Linked DNA regions of Homo sapiens: all the other regions are linked to region 1. Evidence: fine-mapped expression QTL. A gene starts in region 1. Each other region holds a variant in brackets. All regions are shown on one strand. Distances are between the middles of the regions.

Region 1 (5,106 bases):
CATTAATCCCACTCAACTTAAACTAAGATTTTATTAGTTCACAAAAAAATACTGTTTTCAAAAGGCAACGTTTGTATTTTAACCCTAATAATTGACCAAGTAGGTATATAAATTGATTATAACTTCTCCCAATCCTATGGACTCTATGGAGAATTATGTGGCAGATACCATTATTCAACTTTTATGGCCCACCTCTTCCTGTCAGAGTTCACAGCTGGTTAGTGAAGGCAACAGTGGAAATAATTAAGCACCTTACAAACTCAGACTTAAAACCCAGCTCAACTACGACCTCTACTAAGAAATACTCTGCTTCCTTCTCTTTCCTGGCAGTCACTCCCTCCTTCGGGCTCTCCCAGTACTTACTCATCACATCCTATAGGATCCTTTCCCTATGTCTCCTAACAACTTAGGGCAGGGATCACTTTTGTTAATTTCTATATTGCTAGCAAGTGGGGCAATGCTTGGGACACAGCAGGCCTTCAGATCTTGTTGCGCAAATAACAACTATGAGGTTACATGCTATGAGGTCTGTAAAAAGAGGGGCAGAAGAAACCACGGCATTTTGCCTTGAAAGAAGCAGAAGGCTTTTCAAGGAATATTCACACTCACCTTGGAAGCGGAGTGAGATTTAGTACACAAAGATGGGCACTCACAGGAGGGAAGAGCCTCTGCAAGGCAGCAAAGAATGGAAGACCAGATGTGCGGAAGACAGCGGTGTATTCAGGAAGCAATCACTGAAGAGTAGACAATGGGAGGAGGCAGGCAGGTTGAGGGTACAGGGCCTATATGCCAGGTTAAAGAGGTTTCCATGGAATATTCCAGGCTTTGAGAAGCCCCTGAAGCTATTTCAGGCAGTGACATGAAGACTCATCCCTTTAGAGTCTTTGGTCAAAAATTATGAAAGATCTGGGTTTTCAAAGAATTTTGTCTACAGATGCCTATTATAGGTTATCTGAAGCTTGTATATATCCTAGGTTACGGACCTGCCCAACATTTTCTCACATATTTTTATGTATATATTTATATATATATTTCCGTCTATGCTGTTTTATTCCCCAATAGCAGGTGATAAAGGCTCATTTAAACACCTAGTGAAATTTTTATATCTGTTTTAATTTTTTTAAAAGGAGGTGAAGAATTTTTTGAAGTGAAAGTTAGAAAAAATACTTAAGATAAATATTCTGAACTCCTTTTTCATCGCTGTACTTATATACCAAGATTCTGGAAAGGCAACATCCCATCCCTGCGTCAGTAAGGTTAGACGCTGAGGGCCCACTTAACCTGGAGGCTTCCCTAAGTGACAAGACTCTCAAACTGGATGATCCAATAGGGAAGGTTCTAAGTCAAGGGACAAAACAAATCTCCTGGCCCTTCAAGTGCTTGGCCCAAGGAAAAGTAACGCCGAGCCCTGCGACTCTGCCAGGTATTTAAAAATGTAAGATAAGGTGATATTTGTGAGCCGGCCAGAAGGCAACGAAAGGCAGAGAGCAGATCACCGGCAGCCTCGGATTTCACTCTTGCAGCTCGGCCTGAAACAGAGGGAAGCATCGGCCCGGTGCAGGGCAGGAGGCCAGGGCACCCGCTTTCCCCGGGGAGCCGGACTGGGCGGCAGGCGGCGCACCCTGGCACGGAGGGAGGCGGGTACCCGGGCGCGCCGAGTGGCGCGGAGAGCCGGGCTGCAAGGCGGGCGTGGAGTGGCGGCTGTCAGGAAGAGAGGCCAGCATCCTCCCCGGCCTCAGAAAAGCACTGGGGCCTCCGCGGCTTCTACGTGGCCCCGTTACCCACGACGAGAGGGTCACGACGGGAGGCAGAGGAGCGGCTGCGCCCGCAGAGTCCCCCAGGACGCGGCCCCCGGGGCCCTGGAAACCCAGGGCGGGGCCCCCGCAACCACACCCCACCCGCGGCTGCCTGTCCGCGTGGCCACCGGCCACGGGCTGCGGTCCCGGCACGCGGGGGGAGGAAGATGCGGCGGCGCCGCCTGGTCCTCCGCTCCACCGCCCCGGCGATCCCTGAGATAAAAGTTTGCAGCATGCGGCTCGTCTGCAGTGCGAGTCACATCCGCCGCGCCGCCTCCTGCAGCACCAACGCTCATAGAACGAACAAATACATTAAAAATTAAAAAAAAAAAAAAAAAAAAAAAAAAAACTGTTGAAGCCAGTAGGCCCCGAAGCCGGCCTCTCTGCCTCCAGGGCGTGCATGCAGGCTAGCCCAGCATCCCGCGCCCCCTCCCGCCCGGCCTCGGCGCCCGGCCTGTGCCGGCCCCGCCGCGCCCGCCGCACTGACCGATAACCTCCTGCAGCTCGTACGCGTCCCTGCAGATGGGCCAGCCGACAGCCTGTGCCGCCGGGGCCGGGGCCGGGGCCGGGGCCGCGGGAGCTGCCGGGGCCGGCGCTGCTGTCGCGGCCGCCGGGGCCGCCGCCGCCGCCGCTGTCACCGGGGCCGCCTGCTGGGGAAGCTGGACGTGCACGGGCGAGCCGCTCGGCTCCGCCATGATGCTGCGGAGGAGAGCAGGAGGACGCGCCGGCCGACGGACGACCTTCCACTTGAAACTTCCTTTGCCTCGCCGCCGACACCTCTCGGCCGGCGCACGCCCTCCCCGCCCGCCGCCGCCGCCGCCGTCCCCGCCGAAGCCAGCTAGGAGGGGAGGGAGCAAGGGAGGCCGAGCTGGGCGGAGGGAGGAGGCAGCGCCGGCGGAGGCGGGGAAGGGAGGAGGCGGCGGCCGCTGCGCTCGCCGCGCGCCCAGAGCCTAGCGCGCGCTGTTCTCCGCCTCGGCGAGGGGAACCGCCGCCCCCCCTCTCCGCCGCCCCCTCCCGCTCCCGCTCCGCTGGCGGCCGGGGAAGTTCCCACCAAAGGAGTCAGGCCGCTTTGTGTGTGCTTTCGGGGCCACCGGCCCTGGTTCTCCTCCTCCCTCCCTGCTCGCCCTGCGCCTTGGCCCCAGACGATCAGGCTTGCCGGAGGACGCCCCCTGGGGACCCCGAGGGCGGGGTCGTTGAACGGCCGCCAGGTTCTCACATTCAGAATTCTCCTGCCACCAAAGAGAACCTGAAGTTCATTTACAAGTTGACGAGCGGGATACCTACATGGTGTCCCTTTGCAAGACGCCAGTTAGAAAATAACCCAAGTTGTAAGTTTCCGGCGCTTTACTTGCCGGTATCCCTTTCCCACCTTGCCTAATCTAATCGCAGTCCTTCTAGTTTTTCTTAGTAAATGAAACTTGATTCCTTAGGTCTCTGGCTGTTCAGACTTCATTTTTTCCAAGCCGCCTGGATCCCAGGGAGGCGATTTAAGGGGCTGTGGAATTAGAATAAGACATGCAGGAGAGGTTTAGAAAGTTTGCTCAAATTCTACACCCTTAATAATTGCCACGTTAGCCCGTGAGGACACTGAGGCCAGACATCAGGCGTTTCTTTAAGAGCGTATACTTGGTGGGGAAATAATTTATTGGGGCATGAATAAACTGTGTTGGAAGCTTTTAATTGCTGTTTTTTCAACACCCCAAAAATAACCTCGTCTGTAAAACTGCTATGGTAAAACCATAGGTTTTCCTAATTATAGGTGTCATATTTAACAGTGAATGTTCTCTGTGTTCCCTCCGTGGAGGTGACCAGGATCCACCGTTCTTGTCTCCAACTGAAACGGGGCAGTAAACCAATAGTATTGGTCGTTTGGCCAAGATGATCTTGTCTGGTTCTCATTGCTAGGACTGCTGAAGAAATAGGTAAGAATAATGAGGATGTAATAAAAACTCTAGGGATATCATGATTTTGTCTCCCGAGTGTATGTACAGAAATCTCACTAAAATTTTTGAAAGATTATTCAGAAGAAGCCCAGAAATTTATTAGGAAAGTTAGTTGTCTAATCAAAACATTGATGTCCACTGAAGATGAGGGCACTTAATCTCTTGGAGCATTACAAAAGTTGGAGTAAAGCAGCTACCTCGCTCTGGTCTTGAAGCAGAAGTTCATGCTGAACTAAGTGTACATTCTTTGATGCGGAGGACTTCAAAAACTGTGTCTTGTCATGTCTGTCAAGAAACAGAGCCCTTCATAAACAAATTCTAGGCCTCTGAGGAACAGGGGAGCTCTTTATACCAAGCCATGGCTGCTGACCTCTTCAAGTGCTGCCTCCACCCTACCCCAAAGAACTTTTAAGGACTGTTTTTAAAGGAAAAGAAAAATGATCAAATGAATATGACTTCCATTTTGTCATATGAATTTCTATTTTTGACTTTCAAACCATGAAGTGGGATTATGAAGACCAGGAATGTTCTTGGGACTTAGTAGGAAAACATGATGCCGTCAAGATCAATATCACAGAATTGAATCAAACACAGATCAATTAGTCTCCCACAAAAAGCAACTGTTCCCCAGTCACAGACTACATGTCGGTCTCTAGTCAACCGCTTTCCAAATGGCTACCAGGATGAAGACTTGCTTGAGTGGATGACTCAGTGCACATCCATCATTTCTACAGTAAATCGGTTTAAAGAAGAATGTCCCCTGGCATTGCTCTTTGGCATCATTTTTATAAATGAAGAACAGAATATGAATAATATTTTAAAATTATACAAAAGCATTAGAGTTAATGTTTCTGTAAACAATTGGGTAAAATGGTACTTAAAACTTAGAAATATATGTTTTTTAGAAGTATTCAACTGATATGCACTTTTCCCGGAAAATCCATTACTAAATTTAAATTGAAAGATGGGGATGGAGGCGGGTGCCTTTAAAATATAAACAAGGTTTATTTCAATGCATAAAGAGTACATTCAGTGAGCGATGTTAAAAATAGAAAGGAAAAATAAGGGTCTAAATGTTTTTAAAGTGTATCCAACTGCCTCATGATGTGTCAGGGTTTCTCAATCTCAGCGCTGTTTTGTGTCAGATAGTTCTCTTCGTTGTAGAGGTCTGTTCTCCTGTGGTATGGTCTGAATGTTTCTGTCCCCCCAAAATTCATATGTTGACACTTAATCGGCAGTGGAATAGTATTAAGAGCCTTTAGCAGGAGATTGGGTCATGAGGACAGAGCCCTCCTGAGTTAGATTAGTGCCCTTATAAATGAGGCCGGAAGGAGCTTGATGAGGATGCAGCTAGAGGCATTAGCTAT
Region 2 (5,106 bases), 25 kb after region 1:
TCTGTTGAGAAAATGAATTGGTTAATCTTAAATCACATCCAGAATCCTAGCTGTAAGAGAGTCTGGGAAGTGTAGTTACTAGTTTTCCAGCCTTGTCAGGTTCATGATTATGCCAAATGTCATGTTCAGGGTCAGGTTCCAGCCCATGCTGAGGTTCAAGAGAGTGGGTGGATGAGCAGAAAGAACACTCAGGGGTCGTGGGCAGGTGAAAGATGATTTTATTCAGCAGCAGCTCTCATCAACAGATTTCTCATACTGTCTGCCCTGTCATGGCTACTTAGTCTGGTGGCCCCCACATGTAGCTGCACAGCTGGCTCTCCCTTGCCTTCAGGGTCAGCAGCTTAACTCTTTCTCTCTCTGGGCACAAGTGACCTGAGCTGTGTCCTGGCTCCCCTCTGTCTATCTGCAAAGATAGACAGGTTTGGCTCTCTCTCTCTGGGCACCAGTGCACCTGCATAGTATCGAGAGGGCAATTATGCCTTTTACAGACAATAGTGGCTTAGGCCAAGTGGTAGCCTTCCCATTATGGCTAAATGGCTGTGATAACAAGTGGAGTTATATGCCTGTACTTTAAACTCGCTAAGTCACGCAGGATGTAAACATCCTACCTTGGTCTATCCTTGACCAAAGCACGGCCATATTCCTTACAAGCCTCCGCAGTACAGGAAGATGGGATAAATATGAAGCACCAATCTACCATATCTACTATAGATTGTTCTTGAAATTCTTCCTTTTATTCAGAAATTACCATTTTAGAATTATTAAATCACTCACTTAATTTCCTCAACCCCAGTTATCACATCTGTATGAAACTATGATTGTATATGATCTCCAAGGTACACTCTAGATTTAAAATTCTGGATTTTTCAATCATTTTAACTATGTATAAACCTGTACATACATATTTTTCTACGTGTATGTATCCACATAGTTTTCTAGACATTCTCGAGAAAGGATACTAGTTTAGAATTCTACAGCGTTTCTATGCTAACATTTTCAATTGGCTAGAGTTTAAAGATGTGCATAGAGTATATTAACTCTTAGGAAGGGGAGAATTTGTGTAGGGATGTGTGGTGTGTGTGTATACATGCCCATGTGTGTAAATGTATTGTGCATGTAAATTCATTCAGCCAGCTAAATTTTCTAATGATCAGAATTCCACATGACTAGGGAAAAATAAACTGGCAGAAATTCAATACAAATATTAGAGACTGACAATGAATCGGACTATACTTGAAGTTTTTGTTTGGTTTTGAATTCTTACATTTGCTTCCTACATTTCTTTTTTTTTTCTAAAATGAATCAGGCCCATTAAACTTCACATGACTAAGGTTTTCCAGATCTAAAAATGAAATAGTAAGTTGTGTCTTGCCATGTTGAATAACTATTATAAAAGTATACATTTGTGGGCTGGGCGCAGTGGCTCACGCCTGTAATCCCAGCACTTTGGGAGGCTGAGGCAGGCGGATCACGAGGTCAAGAGATCAAGACCATCCTGGCCAACATGGTGAAGCCCTGTCTTTACTAAAAATTTAAAAAATTAGCTGGGTGTGGTGGCACATGCCTGTAGTCCCAGCTACTTGGGAGGCTGAGGCAGGAGAATCGCTTGAACCCGGGAGGTGGAGGTTGCAGTGAGCCGAGATTCCACCACTGCCCTCTAACCTGGAGACAGAGTAAGACTCCGTCTCAAAAAAAAAAAGTACACATTTGTATTATTAGCTTGGTAATTAATTATATATAAATTGGTTGATTACTTATAATTTTACCACTAATTTTATTTTTATACCAGGCAGGGATCTTTGCATACAATTTATTTCCTTAACATTTGGTATATTATCTGTCTATATAATACAAGGACTAGTGTTTGATGTAATGGATTTGCAAAAATGGCCACAAATTTTTCCATACTCCATATCTAAGTCTTTTCATGATGTAACGTTTCAGCTCCTCCCATTAATAGGTGGAGTTTCTTTTCCTACTACTGGGATCTGGACTAGTCTTGTGACTTGCCTTGGCTAATGGAATGCTACAGAAACAATACCTGCCAGTTTCAAGCCTGAACTTCAAGAGCCTTGCACATGTCCCCTAGCTCTTTCGTAAACTTGATGAGTGACAATGTACACAGCCTGCTAGAGATCAGAAACAACATGGAAGAGTGCCAAGACACTTTAGCCAACAACGAGCCATTCCTAGTCAACCCAGAAACTGATCACAGTCATGTAAATTAGCCCAGCTGAGACCAGAAGAACCACCCAGCTCAGCCTAGCCCACATTACTGACCCACAGAATCATGAATTAAATAAATGGTTATTATTTTAAAGACTATGTATTGGGGTGACTTGTTATACAGCTAACTACTAGTCTCAGTTAACTTTCTTTAAATTTTCTGACTCCTACAAAAATTTGAGTTATTTACTTTCAAGAATAGCACTCTATTTTCTACTCAAAATTAATGTATGTTAATTATAGAAAATTTGAATAGTACTGAAATGCAGGAAGAGGAATAAAAATAGTATATGGTATACTACTGTAAAATAACCTTAATAAAATTTTAGTTTATCTGTTACCAGTACATTTTCTAAATATAGAAACATTTTTATATAATTTGATATATTTGCTTTCTTTCTTTTTTTATTATTATTTCTTTTCTTTT[T/C]TTTTTTTCTGAGACTGAGTCTCCCCTTGTCGCCCAGGCTGGAGTGCAGTGGTGTGATCTCAGCTCACTGCAAGCTCCGCCTCCCGAGTTCACGCCATTCTCCTGTCTCAGCCTCCCGAGTAGATGGGACTACAGGTGCCCGCCACCACGCCCGGCTAATTTTTTGTATTTTTTAGTAGAGACAGGGTTTCACCGCGTTAGCCAGGATGGTCTCCATCTCCTGACCTCGTGATCCGCCCACCTCAGCCTCCCAAAGTGCTGGGATTATAGGCGTGAGCCATCGCACCCGACCTCTTTTCTTTTCTTTTTTTTTTTTGAGACAGAGTCTTACTCTGTCACCCAGGCTGGAGTGCAGTGGCATGATCTCCGTTCACTGCAACCTCTGCCTCCCAGGCTGAAGCGATTCTCATACCTCAGCCTCCCCAGTAGTTGGGATTCCAGGCGTGTGCCACTGCACCTGGCTAATTTTTAAAAATTTTTTAGTAGAGACAGGGTTTCAGCATGTTGACCAGGCTGGTCTCAAACTCCTGGCCTCAAGTGATCTATCTGCCACCATGGCCTCCCAAAGTGCTGGGATTGCAGGTGTGAGTCACTGCGCCCGTGCAATTTGATGTATTCACTTTTTAAATAAAATTTTTATTTTAAAACATCCCTGAACATGTTTCCTTGCAATTGATGTTCTACAATTTTAAAAATGTTTGCTTCGTATTCCATCTTACATTAACTTTAAAATATTGTCAATTTAAAAAATCAATTCCAATTAATTGATATTATGAATAATGACATAATAAACATATTTGCACATTAACATTCCCATTAATAAGTGTATAACAGTGCCCATTTCACTGAGTCCTAGCCACTACTATATATTTACATTGAAAACAAACCAACTTTCCTGCCCTGATAGGCAAAAAAAAAAAACTAACTGTGCATGCATATAATTAATTAGAGTTCAATATTTAAGATTTTTAAGGTGAAATTTACAATGAAATACCCAAATCTTACGTGTATCATTCTATAAGTTTTTAACATGTAAACCCGAACCTCTATTAAGTTATAAAACATTACTATGAACCCCAGAAAATGCCTTCCTTCCCTTCTCAGTCAACACTTACCTTGCCCTTCAGAGGCAACCACTCTTCTAGTTTTCTCCATCATGGATTTTACCTGTTCTAGAAGTTTATGAAAATGGAATTATATGTAGTCTTTTGTTAAAAACATCTTTCACTCAGCATAATGTTTTTGAAATTTATCCATACTGTTGCATCTAGGAGCAGTTTCTTTCATTTTTTTACCAAGTAGTATTCCATTCTATGAATATACCACAGTAGGTTCAGCCATTCTTTTGCTGATGAACACCTGGGCTGTTTCTAGTTTTTGGCTATTGCAAATAAAGCTGTTATGAATGTTCTGGTACAATTGTCTTTTTTGTTCACATATGCTTTCATTTTTCTTAGGTAAACACCTAGGAGTAAAATTATTAGGCTCTTGGGTAGGTATATGTTAAGTTTTGCAGTGAATTGCCAAGACTTTTTAAAATGGTTGTACAATTTTATAGTCCCACCAAGAGTACATGAGAATTATGGTTACTCCACATCTTAGCCAGCATTTAGCACTGTCAGTCTTTTTAATTTTAGCCATTGTGGAGATGCATAGCCAGTCTACTTTTTAATTAATGAATATTGGGAATGTTTAACATAGTCATTTATATATAGCTCAAAATTTGAAAGGTGCAAAGACTATACAAGTAAAAGGTGAGTCTCTATCCTAGCCATTACTTTGCCACCCGGTTTTTGTATATACTTCTAGAGATAGTCTATGCATATTAAATACATACAAGTATGAATTCCTTTTAAAGATATTTTCACACAAAACCGTATCTTGTTTTTTAACCTAACAATATTTCAGTTATTATTTCATCTCAGTATACACAGTATTTAACCAGCTCTGTTTCCCTGCACTTAGATTGTTCCTAGTCTTTTGTTATCATAAAAAATGCTGCAAAAGATTTTCCATATGTGTGTGTAAATACAAAATTTTATATGTGAAAGTATATCTTTATGTAAACTCTTAAAAATGAAGATTGGCGAGTGTGATAGTTTTATATGTCACTTGGCTAGGCTATAGTATCCAGTTATTTAATCAAATCTAGGTATGCTATTAAGATATTACGGTTAATATTTACAATCGGTTGACTTTAAGCAAAGATTACCCTTAAAAATATGGATGGGTCTCATCTAATCTGTTGAAGGCCTTAACAGCAAACACTAAGGTTTTCAGAAAAAGGATGACTTCTTCCCCAACACTGTAGCATTAACTCCTGCCTGAATTCTCAGCCTGCTGGCCTGCCCCACATATTTTAGACTTGCCAGACCCTACAATCATCTGCACCAATCCCTTAAAATAACACTCTTTATACATGTATTCCATTGAGTCTGTTTCTCTGGAGAAGG
Region 3 (5,106 bases), 20 kb before region 1:
GATTAACATACCTGTCAGCTGAAACCAGGCTGTCAAAATGAAAGCCTTAAATTACACATGTCCTTAACAAAAAGGATTTAAGAGATTTTTCTCCTAACTAATAAGGAGCACTGCATAGTTTTTAATAAAACAATAATGTTTAATTTTGCTTATGTGCTAAAAAGGCATTTTTAAGGAGATTAAAACGCAGATTCAAGACCACCAGAAGAAACTTTCCAACATGAAATCAGACCATTTGGTCATCTCTTCTGAGTACGTTGTTCATTTGTCTTTTACCCAGCAACAATTCCTGCAAAATGATAATCAAAACAGCCTTTTGGTAAACAGGAGCTTAAACACTGTCTCTCAAATCAGATTACATTTCAAGTGATCTGAAACTAAGACAGCACTTCATGAACATGGTTCTCATTTTAAAAAGTCACAGGGAAACTGCCCTTTGAGGTTCTGAGGGACACAGACACCAAAGTTTAGGACTCAGCAGTTCATGATCACTGACATATCCAACCCTCTAGCCATCGTTTTGAAAGTGAAGCAGAATGGGGTTCAGGAGGAAGAGAACAGGGCAAAAAGGGATACTTAATAGTGACCCTGAAGAGGAAAACAAAGCAACCTTGAGAAATCTTCCAGGGGATATTAACAAACTTGCATCTCTGAAACACTGGACCACCAAATACATCATAAAATTTGGGAGGATCAGATTCTCTTCTCAATATCCATGGAGAAGATACTGCTGATAAAACTATCAAATACATCATAAAATTTGGGAGGATCAGATTCTCTTCTCAATATCCATGGAGAAGATACTGCTGATAAAACTATTGACATAGGAAAGTTAGTTCCTCAAAGAGTATCAGGTTCCAGGTATATTTTTCAGAATTTTATCACCATTACATAAACAGGATGAACTACTTCATAGTACTTTAAATCCAGCAGAAAAGGCAAGACCAGACCATATCTCAGGATTCGGGTATCATTATTTCAGAATTTAAGACAATTTATAACTGAAACTGGGCATAAGATTTCCCAATTTACAATCCATAAGGGAAAAGGGAGGTTCTTCCTAGGGAAGAAAGTTATTTATTGACTCAAAACAATAAACTGCTCTTTAAACACATTGTAAGTATATATTTTAACAAAGAAAGTACATTAGATCAGGATTACATTTTGCTGATTAGGGTGACATGTCGTCTCTGTCTCGTGACCAGTTACTTACCTAAGAGCAGTATTACATAAAACACTCACTAGTGGTGCCTGCCACACTTGTGATTCCTTCCCAGGCAGGAACTTCCGATGCTACACCCTTCTCCAAGGAGGGTGTCTGAGTTTAGGGCAGTCAGGTGTTCTATGAAGGGACTCACTAAAAACTAGATTCTCAATCTTTGGGATTAAGATTGGGAAATACAGACAGAATCCAGCAATTAGCAGCCATAGTTGCGGCTAACAGGGAAAGAAGAGAGAAGCTGGATGGGCCATAAGGAGCTATGAGTGAGCCAAAATTCTGACTAAGTAGAAACAACATGACAGAGAAGACATGCACAGATAGTAGGTAAGAAAGCCAGGTAAAAACAGCCAGAGAAGCAGGTGGGCATGAGCAAAGCAAACACATGCTGATTGGCCGGTTACACTAAGGTTAGAGGATCCAGAATAGTGAGGATCCAAAGTTTCCTGCTGCTGAGGTCTTATCCACTTCCCAGTCCATATGCAGACATTTCACTGCAATTCCCAAGACCGAGACCCTCAACTTTTCCAGGATGCTAGAAAACCCAGGATTATGGATGAGATTCCTGTCCCCCTATTCCCACATCTACCTTTATAAAGAATGCCCCATTATTTGGGTAATTTTAGTGAGTCCCTGTTCCTTACAACCTAAAGGGCAGATTAACCAATTTTGTTATATTCTATAATCCAGACTGCTCACCAACTCAAAAAAATCTTTCCATAAATTTGCTCATACAAATAAACTTCATCACACTTCATTTTTTAGACCATAAGTGATGCAACTTTCATTCCCTAAACTGAGGCAATAATTTTTTCTTTTCCAATCCACAATTACCCAACCATCCCACCCCACCTCACCCCACCCACCATTTTCTCCTGACCTTAGATATTTTAGGTCTGGGTCAAATCGGGAATAAGGCAAGATGCCTTCTCACTATAACTCCCTCTTACCTTTAAGGTCAGTAATGGGAGCAAATAAGCTAGCATTTAATTAGTACAACTGGAAGAAATTGTCACAGTATCTATCAAAAGTATAAATGCAATACCACTGGCCCTGGCCATCTGAAATTCTGGATATCTATCCCACAGAAATAATAAAAACTTGGAAACAATCAATAAGTTCATCAATAAAGGAATTAGTTAAGTAAATTCAGCTGCACTCATAGAATAGCAATGGATCCAGAATACACATTTTTAAAGGAGGTGGATCTCTGAGAAATAGCCTGGAATGACAGCTGTGAATATTTATAATGTGTATACTTTACTAAAAATATTTACAGAAAATATACAGAAGTAAAATACCCAAGTAATATATATATATTACTTTGAAGAAGTAAAATTTACAGATTGCAGAACAATACGTATAGTTTCCACATTACATGTAAAATTATTACATTTTGGAAAAATCTTTATGTAGATGTATACATAGAAAAACATCTGCAAGGATACACACCAAACTGGCCATACAGGCCATCTCTGGGCAATGAAAGTTGGGAGTTATTTTCATCTACTTGATTCATAAATATTATACATTTGTAACTTAAAAAACATTTAAAATAAAGACTAGTCATGCCAAAAGCTATTTTGTCCTTTTGTTCTAAATACTATAAAATCCTTAAAATTTAGCGGACCACAAAATTCAACATTCATATCATCAAATTAAATTCCTATTCATTTCTCCCACATCCGCATGAAATCACACAGCTAGTTCTACAAAAAGATACCACATATTTAATTCATCTAGAAAATCCTCATG[C/T]TGCCAGCTCTAGGTTTCATACGAAGTCACTATGAAATCCAAAAGTCACTACTCTGTTCAAACACATCCACAAACAGTAAGAAAGTTACTGACTCTTAACTTCTCTCTGTGCCAGAACTTTTTGTAAAACAATTTTTCTTTTTTATTTATTTATTTTTTTGAGACGGAGTCTCACAGTGCAGTGGCACAATCTCAGCTCACTGCAAGCTCCACCTCCCAGGTTCACGCCATTCTCCTGCCTCAGCCTCCCGAGTAGCTGAGACTACAGGCACCCACCACCACTCTCGGCTAATTTTTTGTATTTTTAGTAGAGATGGGGTTTCACCGTGTTAGCCAGGATGGTCTTGATCTCCTGACCTAATGATCCGCCCTCCTCAGCCTCCCAAAGTGCTGGGATTACAGGCGTGAGCCACCGCGCCTGGCCAAAACGATTTTTCTACCAATCAACGAAGTGCCAAATATCAGAATAAGGTGATCCAATAGTATCTAGAAGACAAAAGGCAAAGTATAATAGATACTCCTAAGAAATCTAAGTCGTAACACAGACATTAAGAGTAGATTGTATTAGATGTATTCCGTGATTCTGAAAACATTTAAGTATGAGAAAAAATACACTTAACACACTTTGCAGTAATCATAAGGCATGCTTGTCAGTGTATGCCAAAATCTCAAGAAATAAAATCACTTTTGCCAAGCAAGTATTAATCTAAGACTAGTTTATTTTACTTGCCGTAACAAATTAAATGTGAAAGTACTGGGAATACAAAAAAGGTAGACATTTCTAAAAATATCAATTTACACTTTTTTTTTTAAAGTTCTATGCCATGTAAATATATACTCCTACATCAAAATTCAAACAGTGTCTAGCCTTGGGTGATGAGGTTACTTTTCCTCCTTTTCACTCATCAGTGTTGTATAAATTTTCTACAATGACCTTATATTATTGTTTGTATAATATTTGAGAAGTATAAAATAGGGCCAGGATCAGCGGCTCACACCTGTAATCCCAGCACTTTGGGAGGCTGAGGCAGGTAGATCACCTGAGGTCAGGGGTTTGAGACCAGCCTGACCAACATGGTGAAACCCCATCTCTATTAAAAATACAAAATTAGCCTAGTGTGGTGGTACATGCCTGTAATCTCAGCTGCTTGGGAGGCTGAGGCAGGAGAATCACTTGAACCAGGAGGCAGAGGTTGCAGTGAGCCGAGATTGCGCCATTGCACTCCAGCCTGGACAAGAGTGAAACTCCATCTCAAATAAATAAATTAATTAAATAAGCTTGGAATTTTTAATAACCTCAGAGATCCAGATAACATCTTTTTCTCAGTGCTTTTTCCTTACATGAGAAAGGAACTCAGGCCAGCCACAGGAAGGACACTCCACAATTCTAATCCCACGTCCAGACCTGTCTTCCAATGTAATAAACAGGTCACTTAGCCTTTAAATCTCTAACTTTATAAAGATAACATTTAGCCCTCTTCCCACATCTAAAAGCATATAATATTTTATGATAAGGGCTTTTACCAGACTTTACAACTTAATAAAAGGTAAAATAGGCCAGGCGTGGTGGCTCACACCTGTAATATCAACACTTTGGGAGGTCAAGGCGGGTGGATCACAAGGTCAGGAGTTTGAGACCAGCCTGGCCAAGATATCAGCCTGGCCAATATGGTGAAACCCATCTCTACTAAAAATACAAAAATTAGCCAGGTGTAGTGGCAGGTGCCTTATAATCCCAGCTACTCCAGAGGCTGAGGCAGGAGAACTGCTTGAACCCAGGAGGCGGAGGTTGCAGTAAGCTGACATTGCACCATTGCATTCCAGCCTGGGTGACAGAGCAAGACTCTGACTCAAAAAAAAAAAAAAATTAAAAGGTATAACAGTACATCTCCCTTCCTTCTATTATTTCTAAACAAAACAAAAAAAACTAAAACAAGAACTAAAAAAAATGAAGAGAGGCAAACTCTGTAATTCTGTCAGTAACTATTACAAAGCTTCTAATATTTCTATCCTAATAGGCTAGCAATTCTTTTTGAAAAACTGTGAAACGGGGAATAAAATATTGCTGGATTGACTTCAAAGTAAAGAAACTTTCTTAATTAAGCAAAAATCTACCTTTAAATTGAGTGATG
Region 4 (5,106 bases), 62 kb before region 1:
CCCAGGTCTCCAACTTAAAGACTACCATTCCAGGGAAGCCCAATTTGTGTTCACTGGGAAAGAAAATCCACACACACATACTGACCACCCACTGCACAGTAGACACTTGACTCCTTATGAGCCTGTACATTTTTATTACTAGCCTCATTTTACATGGGAGAAAACCGGGACTCAGAAAACTTGCCCAAGGTCACATAGAGCTAATAAGTACCTGAGCCAGTATCAGCATCACGCCTGCCAGACTCCGAGATGTGTGCTTTTGTTCTACTTCCCACAAGCCAGAGCACATGCTTCCCTTCCTCACTTGTTTTGGCCTTGCTAGGAAAAAACTTTCTTCCATCCTATATGGTTCAACAGAAGACAAACAACCCAGACCAGGGTCTGCATGAGCCTCATTTGCTAGAGCTGTTTGGGAAGAGAGTGCTATGGACAGGTTGCTTCAAAGGGCCTTCCTCTCCCTAATCTCACTGCTCATCCATCAGCTGCTACCCCATTGGCTGCTACTCCAGGTCCCACTAGTTTGGCTTCACTGGCCCTGCAGATCACAGCCCACTGGGTTCAATCCAGAATGGTCCAGATGGCAGAGCCAAACAATACAAAAAGTCTGCTGATAGCAAAGTATATTTTCCAGTCTCCGGAACAAGACACTATCACTGAAGGGAGCCACAGAGAAAGTGCTATGCAGCTGGTTAGCACTGGGCCTGGTACCCAGCAGAGAAATCAACTAACATCTTTAGCTGCTGGTGGGAAACCATCCTCAGCTCTACCTGCAATAAATCTCCCCCCAGCTCAGCTTCTCCATCCTTAATCTACATTCCAGAACATTCACAAATCAAGGAGTTTCAAAAACAGGAAAGAATAAATTAATTCCCAGAAAGGACAAAACAAGCGTATGTAATACAGAGATACCTCTCATAGTTAAGTCCTTGACAGTAAAAGTCTCCTAACCTCCAAGGAACAAAAAATAAGAATTCTAAAAACATGGAGGGGTAGGTGGTGAGAAAAATCTTTTATTAAAGCTTTACAGCTAGAGAATTGTTACTGCTTTACAACTACAGCTAACTAAGGAACGACTGGCTACTTCTCATCTCTAGACAGAATTATGAAGCTTTGTGACCTGAGATCATTGTCACAACATGGATGGATTTAACCATTCATTAAACAGTTTGGGAGATTCTACTCTAAATCCAAAGATTTCCCTTCAACTATAGAAGAGACCAAGAACAAAGTTAAAGGTGGAAAGGCACCTTAGAGAGCATCAAGTCCAACCCACCCCCTCACTTTATGAATGAGAAAACAGGGTCCTGTGAAGGATAGGGATGTGTTTCCTGCAGCAATTGGAAAGCACAGGATTAGGACCCTAGGCATACTTATTCCTTATCTACCATTCTGTGCACCAGGTTGGTGTTTTTTCAAATTGCCAGTGAGGATCCACTGGTCACAAAATCAACTAACTGGGTGGAGGCCAGCATTGTTTAAGGGAAGCATCAGAATGTAATAAGGGTAAAAACTGCTTTATGAAACTTTTGTTTCACTTACGCCCAAGCTTTAGTATGACATGTTTTACTGTAAGTGATGATCAAAAGTTTGGAGTCTGCTAGTACTAGATTAGGATTCCCAGGATTAGAGTAAATCCATGCTTTGAAAGGAAAGGAGGTGACCTAACTGCATAATTCTAAAGGACATTTAGAAATAATACCAACACTGTCTTGCTTTAAGGGTTTTTATGCACTTTGCTGATTAGTTTAAGAGGAAGCTAAAAAATGTGGGGCTTGTAAATACAGGAACTGGACAAGTGTTAGCAACATGAAATAAAATAAGAGCAATTACTATGCTGAACAGCACCTTGTATTTATTTTGAACAATATATGATACTGACACATGACTCATTAACATTAGTAGCATATTTTCAATGAAGTATCATGCACCCCTTTTGGAATAAGAGTTCTTAACATTTTATGAATTTCTCATTTTATTCCTGACTCCTATTTCAAGTGCAATAAATCATTCAATAGGATTATGGCCTGTATGCACATATGCACAAGTTAAGTGGGCACGGCTTTAAATCTTTTCAGTTCACTCTTTTAAGTCACTCTATCTCAATTCACTTTTGCTAAGTAATTCCCGACTAAGAACAGCTACTTGGAAGTTTTAGATAGTGATTATGTCAATGGCAATCAGAGGTAAGAGATTGCTCACGTTCATTACCATGATGCAGATTTTTCCTTTAGTTGACACCTCTTCTCATTTTCCCCTCTGTACTGCTGCTGGTATTAAGGTAAATAACCAGAACACTGCATACCTGCATTTTATACTTTCAGTTATCCAAAGAAATATTTCATGGAAATATAATTTAGTATTCTAACTTTGCATTTCACTAAGGTCTATGTGAAATTAACATGAAAAACTACAGTGTTTATTTTGCAAAAATCACTACTATTGTCAAATGCAGTTTCAACAGTATGTTCAAAGTCCCTACTCCCATGACTCACACAATAACTTCCTCTTTGCATTTAGTGCATTTAGTGCAAAAAAGCAGCAAAAAGATATTTGCTTATATTAATTCATCAACAAACAGTAATTAAATCCCTGCCATGTAGCAGGCAGTTCACTAGATAATAAAGTGCCAAAGGTGACCATTCCTGCTTCAAGTGGAATAAATCCTTCTATAGGATCACTTCCTCTGCAGAAGTTAACAGGGATGACTAAAATGCTGTTGTGGACTGAATGTCTGTGTTCCCCTAAAATGTCTTTGTTGAAGCCCTAATCCCCAATGTGACTATATTTAGAGATACAGTTAACAGATAATTACCACCTTTATGGAGGTAATTAAAGGTTAAATGAGGTCATCAGGACAGAGCCCTGGTCCAATAGGATTAGTATCCTTACAAAAAGAGACAATAGAGAGCTTACTTTCCCTCTCTGTCCTATGAGGACACAGC[A/G]AGAAGGTGCCTGTTTACAAGCCAGCAAGAGAGCCCACCAGAAACTGAAGTGGTCAGCACATTGATCTGGACTTCCTAGACTCCAGAACTGTGAGAAATACATTTCTGTTGTTTAAGCCACTCAGTATATGGTATTTTGTTACAACAGCCCAAGCAGACTAATACAAAAGCCTTGAAATGTCTGTTCAAAGTCATTCTTCCACTAACACCTATGGCAGAGAATGCCATACTAATTAGAAGTTCTTAGAAGCTTCCTGATTAAGTCAACAGCAAATGGCAAGATTCAACTGAAAGGCCTCTGGTAGCTCATTGTAGTTCCCATCTTAGGTTAGTAGGAGCCTTGAAAAGAAGGTTAGACAGGGATTCTATCCAAACGTGGTATTGATTCCCTCTGTGACTTTCGACCTAACTGCTATCTAGACTTCAGCTTCCTTAATGGGCATAATAAAATACACCTTTAAGGCTTCATAACATAATATATTTCACATCCCTGGAAAACATCAACTCAATAAATGTTAGGCTCTCTCTCTGGGACTCATTTCTCCATCTGTGACATAAAGGAGGTAAACTATATCTACTGTTTATATGGCACCCAAGGGAAAAGAGGGCAAAGTGGCTCAGGGTCAGAACTGAGTTTCATTTTGCTTAGCACCAGGAAGATTAGACTGGTTTAAAAGAGAGGCTAGGAGAGCTAAATTTGGAAACCAAAGAACTAAATGATTTCTAAAGTCTGATACAGCATGATGAGCATAAGAGTTTAAAATATAAGAGACAATCCAATTCAGAAACAGCTGTGAATTAATATTCCATAGCAAAGATTGTCATGTATAATGCACTTTGATATCTAACCTTAAAAAGTTATTTTAAGGCCGGGCATGGTGGCTCACGCCTGTAATCCCAGCACTTTGGGAGGCCAAGGCAGGTGGATCACAAGGTCAGGAATTTGAGACCAGCCTGACCAGCATGGTGAAACCCCGTCTCTACTAAAAATACAAAAATTAGCCAGGCATGGTGGTGCATACCTGTAATCCCAGCTACTCAGGAGGGTGAGGTGGGAGAATCACTTGAACCCGGAAGGTAGAGGCTGCAGTGAGCTGAGATCATGCCACTGCACTCCAGCCTGGGTGACAGAGTGAGACTCCATCTCAAAAAAAAAAAAAAGTTATTTTAAAATATCTATGTCAATCCAGATTGCATGGGTTCATATCCCAGACCTGCCACATACTAACTGCTTATGCTTGGATGACTTGCCTAACTTCTTCATGCCTCAGTTTCCTCATTGGTAAGACGGCAATAATGCTACTTCACTCATAGAGTGGTTGTGAGGATTAAATGAGTTAACACAAAAAAAGTCTTTGAAACTGTGCCTAGCACATAGTAAGCACTAATTAAATCTTAGCTAGCGTTGCTCCTTAGGGAAATCCCCCCAGGTCAACTGGTGTCCTGTCAATCTGTCATTTTAATACCACGTAATATTTCATAGTATTAATGTACCATAATTTATTCAGCCCTCCTTCTGTTGATGAGTATCCCCTTTATTTCTAGTTTTCATCCCCATATGAACAATGTAGCAATAAACATCTAGTACTTTTTTTAAAAAAATTAGTCCATAAGAACTTTACGTTAAAGTTAAGACGTCAATTGTCCAGTAACCCCTTCCCATAAATGGCAAGATTTTTTTCAAGGCATCACATTAGCCTGTAACATTAGTTATGGCCCCTGGAAGGAAGTTCTAATCACCATATTATATTTAAATGAGAAGCACAAAGTTGGAACTTTAATAAGAGTTTGACCATCTCTTAGCACGTGCAAGAACTCCTTAAGTATGCTCAGCTGTCCTTTGCCAGTGAACAGAGTCAAGAGTGGGCTCAGGCTTTCTTTTTAGAGGTGCTAGCTGGTGATGGATAGTAAACAAAACAAATGGCTTTGGTTCAGCTGATTTATTCTAATCCTGCCTTTCCCCAGCTTACTCTTTGAGCTCTATTTATATCATGTGTCCAACCTCAAAGCCCACAGGCCAGTCAGTCACATGAGGACCAGAAGCTGGCCAGGAGAGGACTTGGATGAATGGACACACATGTGAGCTCTACAGGAGTACAAGTGCCACTCTGCTTCAGCCAACTGTCACCATCTGAGATCGCTGACCTGGCATAGCAAGACAGTC
Region 5 (5,106 bases), 93 kb before region 1:
ATTCTTCCCTGGATCCCCAATGTGGGGTGGGAGGACTATTTTTAAAGATGCTCTGGTAAAAGCAGCCACAGGACAGAGGCTTGGCTTACTCTCCTCTCTACACCCAAGACAATCCTCTGATTTGAATTCTTCAAAACAGTACTGAGAATGTCTTTAAGTGACTGCAGCTAATGAAGGGTTATTTGAACATTTTGATGCAAGATAGGTCCTTGGAGAACATCTTGTCAATCTTCCTTACTTTACAACGGAAGGAACTGAGCCCCGGCGCTCCTCAACCGTCAAAAGGCATAGAGTTAAGAAGTATATTGGTGGGGTAGGGGTGAAACCTAATGGCAAGAAGCAAAAGTGAAGTCTGAGGAGATTTGAGAGTGAAGTGCTTTTATGACTTTCAGAATGACCTTAAACAAGTCCACAATTGCTCAGCAGTCCTCAGATGCTTCATCTGAAGGAACTATTGTGCTGAACTGACAGAGTTGCTGTAAGGAGAGCACCAGGTAAGTATATTATACAGGTATTATTGTTTCCCAAGCCAAAGGCAAGCTTCTAAAGTCAGCGAGGGCTCCTGGCCGGCCATATCCGCAGAGACAGGCATGAACAACTTAGATCAAATATTAATAAGTCTAAATTTCCAATGCAATATTCATATACCTGCAGGTGATCTTTTTTAAACAAATCTTCACTCAACCAGCACTACTATCAGAAGCTTCCATTAAGCCACAATAGCCCATCTGTACATGTTAAAAATATGATCCCTATGGGAGAAGATTAAAATAACACAACTCCAGTTGCTACAAGTATTTAAGGAAACAATGCACACCATTGTTTTACAAAGTTTTCAGAAGGATTAGTTGAATCTTCAAAGAATCTGCAGATTTCCAAATCTGTGATAAAAGAAAACCTCACACTGAAAACTCCTAACATTAAAGAGTCACTGAACTATTGCTCAATATTCTTTTAATCTAAATTTACTATATAGTCAGATGTTTATTAATTCATTTGACAACTATTTGCCAAGATCTTACTAAGTGCCACTTCCAGTTCTAAGTACTGGGACTGTAGACCAGAAACCCCTGCTCTCACGGAGCTGACTTTTAAGTTGGGGCAGGAGTAAGGGGGAGAGGTAAATACAGATAAAAGCAAAATTACAAAATATAATACATAGTAGTAGTTCTCAGACTTCAGCCTGCTTCAGAACCCTTAGAGGGCTTCTTAAAACACAGATTGCTGGGCCCTACCTCTAGAGTTTCCGATTCAGAAGGTCTAGGGTAGGAGAACACAAGAGTTTGCATTTTTATCAAGTTTATGCTGCTGCTGCTGCTCTAGGAGCACACCTTGAGAGAGCCACTGATAGAGAGTACGCTGATGTGTACAATAAAGAAAACAGAGCAGGGCAGGGAATACAAAATATGGGGTGGGGGGGGGTTACAATATGAGGCCTGGAAGTCTCACTGATGTGACACTTGAGCCAAGATCTGAAGGAGGTAAGGAAAAGAGTATTCCAGAAAGAAGGAACGGCCCATGCAAAGATCCCGGGGCAGCAGCATGCAAGGTAAGGAGGCCGATTTGACTGAAGAGGAAGATGTAAGAGTTGAAATCAATGACATAATGAGGGGCCAGATCTTGTAAGGCCTCACGAGCCACCTTAAGGATTTTGACTTTCACTCTGAAATGGCAAGGGGTTGGAGGGTTTTGAGGAAAGGCATAATACAAGTCAACTTAGTTTAACAGCATTAATCCAGATGCCGTGTAGAGAACAGACCACAGAGGGGCAAAGGCAGAAGAAGAGGTCCTTTTAGGAGACCACCATAATAATCCAAACAAGAACTGATGGGTCTGTGGACCAGGATGACAGCAGGGAGCTGATGAAATATGGTCAACCATAGGATTTACTAACATATTGGATAGGATGTAGGGTCCAAGAGAACGACAAGGATCGAGGAATATCAAGATTTCTGGCCCATTCAATAGAAGAATGGTTCTCCCACTAAAAGAACTGGGAAAGACTGTGAGAAGCACAGTTCAGGAGCACAGGGGTCATAGAGTTCTCTATTAAAGTTATCCACTTGTTAGAGTTGCAAGGAAATTTGAGAGCCTAAGCACATCATTTTACAGGTGATACAAACTATGGCCAGCAAAGGGTAAGGACAGTAAGTTAATGACCACTGGGGGCCTAGACTGGCTACTGTGTCCTCAAGTGTACTACATACAATCAAGTGTTAAATCATATTCCACAGAATGTAAACACAGGTTAACACTATTTAAATGTCCTAAAAATCTGTAATCAACATATGATACATGCAGTAACTTATAAGATGTTATTGACCAAAACCTATTTACAATACATATTTAAAATTTATCCCCATTACAACCTATTCAACTAGTCCTAATGTGGATAACTTAAGTTACCCAGGTATAGGCATTCCCTTCACACTTAACACATTTTTTAAATTTATATAGTTGACTGTTTAATGTGTCACCTAAACTCCATGACAGTAGACACAATGTCTCCATTGCTTACCACTGTGTCAGCTGAGAGGACTGTGCCTAGAACATAGCAAATGCTCAATAAATACCTGTCAACTAACCACTGAGGATACACTGAAACCAAACATCTAATGTTTACCTTTTCTCCCACAGAAGGAGCAGGCTATACAAATGGAGGTTCTGGGAAAAAGAAAAAT[A/G]AACGAAAAAATAAGCAAAGGACCGAATTGCTCTGCTTTCAAGTCTAAAAACTCTTATTTTAGGCAGACCTCCATAGTATTTGGTAATATGTGAAATTTAATTTAATAATGAATTGCAGGCCCTTACAGGAAGGAAAAAAGAGAGGGAAGGAGGGAGACTGAGTCCCATCTGCCTCATGCCCCCCTAGACACTCTTCTGTGAAGCTCAACCCTGTCCCCCCTGCAGCTAAACGTGCAGAGCTGAGCAAAAATTCCAGCAGGAGAGTAGAGCAAAGTGGTTCTCCTCCACCGGGTTCACCCAGTAACATTTCCTTAAGCTGTTGCTCAAACAACTGCTAGCAGCTGTTAAAGCATGAGAAGCTGCTTACAATCTCCCCAAGTATTTCTCACTGATGGTGTGCAGCTGGAATGAAAAACTCAGTTTCCAGAACTGAGTACATTCTTGGTTCATTCTAGAGCTCTTATCAAATGTTACCATTTGTCGAGATACCAAAAATCAGGGAGCCACATTAATTTACTGTCCTTATTCACTTATGCCAAAAAAAAATTCATGTATGAGAATTTTGTCGTAATTCATCAAACCATAATTCACATAGTTATAAACTGTTCCTGAAACTCAAAACAAATATTTCGGTTCACTATAAAGCACTTGCACCCCCCCCACCCCAACAGATTTTAATTTTCATGTGTATTCTATTTTCTGAGTATAACCAGTTGCCTCTTCATTCATGTTCTCTGCTTCACTCTTCCTTAACTTTAGCCTCATGGCTTGCAGGCTAGGGCAGTGCTTGTCCAAAATCAGAAGTGATATTCCCCATTAAAAACTATTTTCAGCCTTTAAAATATGCAGTAGTATACATACCTAAATATTTAAAATATTTCTGCCTCCCTCCCTGCTAAGCTGATATATTCTTACTCATTTCAACTCTCAGCTATGCCTTACATCTGTTCTCTTTGCCACCAACAGGCACATGTACTTGCATAACCTGCTGCTGAGACAGGGTGTCTCCCGTGCCTCTAGGCAGAGTGCACTGACCCAAAGTTCAGGAACACCTGCCATGTATCAGGTACCATCTGGGAATGCTGCGATGAACAACACAGTTTCTCCCTCTGGGAAGTATCCAGTCTGAAGGGAAGATGGGAAAGTAAAGGCCCAATGTCAGTGCTGTGTCATAGGCTAGCTAGAGTATGGCCAGAACCCTTGCAAACCACCAGGGTGAGGGGCTTAACCTGGTGCAGGTGGGCATGGTGGAGGAAATGATCATGAAAGGTTTCTCAAGGAAAGAATTCTTCATGAATAAGTCATGAAAAGAAGTTACTCAGGTAAGAAAGGGGAACCCTGAACAAGAAGCTATAAGCATTTCAAGTCACAGCAGAAAGCACTTGCAGACATGACCAGAAAAACAGGCAGGTCCCTCATCTGCCATTAGTAGGAAGCTGGAGCTTTATTCCATCAACAATGCTTTATTCCATCAACAATGCTTATAAACTTTATGCAAGAGGAAGATACAGTCAGATCTACACTGCAGATTCTTCACTCTGGTGATATTGAGGAAACTGATGGGAAAAAGAAAAGAGCAAAATAACACGGCAGGAGGTCAGATGGAGTGCCTAAGGCCTCGCACCTCCCTAGCCACCGTGAGCTTACCACACCCTAAGTAATTAGAGGACACCATCCCAATTTCAATACGAAAGCAATGAGTTAGCAAATTCTAAAATAAAATGTGTTTTAACTCCTTTAATGCCGCAGTATATTCTCATTACACAAACGTGCAAAATGAGGCACAGAGAAGCTAAAGCTATAACTTGGTTACACAGCTAGAAGGAGCAATGCCAGGACTGAACTATGGCTGTCTGGTGTCAGAGCCCATGCTCTGGGCCAAGGTGCTCATAAATGTGATGACATCATTTCCTGATTGGATGCCTCCGGGGCTTTCAGCGCTTTCCCACACTAATCAGAAGCTGACTCCAGCGCTGCTCGGGTGCCTTGCTCAAAGCAGCAGCCTCTCTTCCCTACAACACAAAAAATAACTCTTAAACCCCTACCCTCCCCATCAAAGTGCACTTTATGAGGGCCAAAGGCCACAGAAGGAAAATGAAAGAACCTAGCAGCTATGGGTGTAAAAACTCAACCACCTTGCCCATCTTCCTCTAGCTCCTTAATGGATAACGCCTAAGTGACAGAAGCAAGTTAAGTTTCATTGCATGTTTTCCTAGCACTTTTAGTCATGGGGTTTTCAGTGTTCAAGATGCAGATTTAAAATGAAGATGTATTCAAGGCTGATAAGGATATTATCTCCCTCCCAGTAAATAAGAGATGCTACCCAAAGTTCTACCAATGTACCTTGGACAGTGAAAAACCCAGGGCATAAGCTTGATTTGAATGGATGCACATACGTGAGGCATTTTGATGGTAACTTTCTAG

Direction of the effects. Positions count from the first base shown, and alleles are read on the strand shown. Sizes are in standard deviations (SD) of each study's normalised expression. Not every link is listed here.
With allele T in place of C in region 2, the expression in Th2 cells of the gene that starts at base 2,651 in region 1 is lower (moderate effect, 0.69 SD a copy in Schmiedel 2018).

The links. PIP is the estimated chance that this variant, and not a neighbour inherited with it, causes the effect.
Region 2: its variant is the best candidate, but not a certain one, in a credible set for the expression of STK39 in Th2 cells (Schmiedel 2018, PIP 0.71).
Region 3: its variant is the best candidate, but not a certain one, in a credible set for the expression of STK39 in whole blood (TOPMed, PIP 0.80).
Region 4: its variant is the best candidate, but not a certain one, in a credible set for the expression of STK39 in T cells (TOPMed, PIP 0.54).
Region 5: its variant is the best candidate, but not a certain one, in a credible set for the expression of STK39 in whole blood (INTERVAL, PIP 0.75).

The regions. Positions count from the first base shown.
Region 1 is chr2:168,244,945-168,250,050 of GRCh38, forward strand. STK39 (serine/threonine kinase 39) reads right to left here and starts at 2,651. Exons shown (of 18, transcript NM_013233.3): 1 at 2,284-2,651. The coding sequence starts at 2,491. LOC107985959 (a long non-coding RNA gene) reads left to right here and starts at 3,017. Exons shown (of 5, transcript XR_007087282.1): 1 at 3,017-3,124. RefSeq lists silencers at 1,537-1,736, 1,757-1,846, 1,937-1,986, 2,347-2,396, 2,607-2,856.
Region 2 is chr2:168,270,315-168,275,420 of GRCh38, forward strand. No RefSeq gene overlaps it. Among named protein-coding and RNA genes, the nearest start is that of STK39, 25 kb to the left of the region's middle. The variant T/C (reference allele first, on the strand shown) is at 2,654.
Region 3 is chr2:168,224,559-168,229,664 of GRCh38, forward strand. The region is part of intron 1 of STK39 (serine/threonine kinase 39); the gene reads right to left. Among named protein-coding and RNA genes, the nearest start is that of STK39, 20 kb to the right of the region's middle. The variant C/T (reference allele first, on the strand shown) is at 2,975.
Region 4 is chr2:168,183,262-168,188,367 of GRCh38, forward strand. The region is part of intron 1 of STK39 (serine/threonine kinase 39); the gene reads right to left. Among named protein-coding and RNA genes, the nearest start is that of STK39, 62 kb to the right of the region's middle. The variant A/G (reference allele first, on the strand shown) is at 2,943.
Region 5 is chr2:168,152,227-168,157,332 of GRCh38, forward strand. All of the region lies in intron 5 of STK39 (serine/threonine kinase 39), which reads right to left. Among named protein-coding and RNA genes, the nearest start is that of STK39, 93 kb to the right of the region's middle. The variant A/G (reference allele first, on the strand shown) is at 2,682.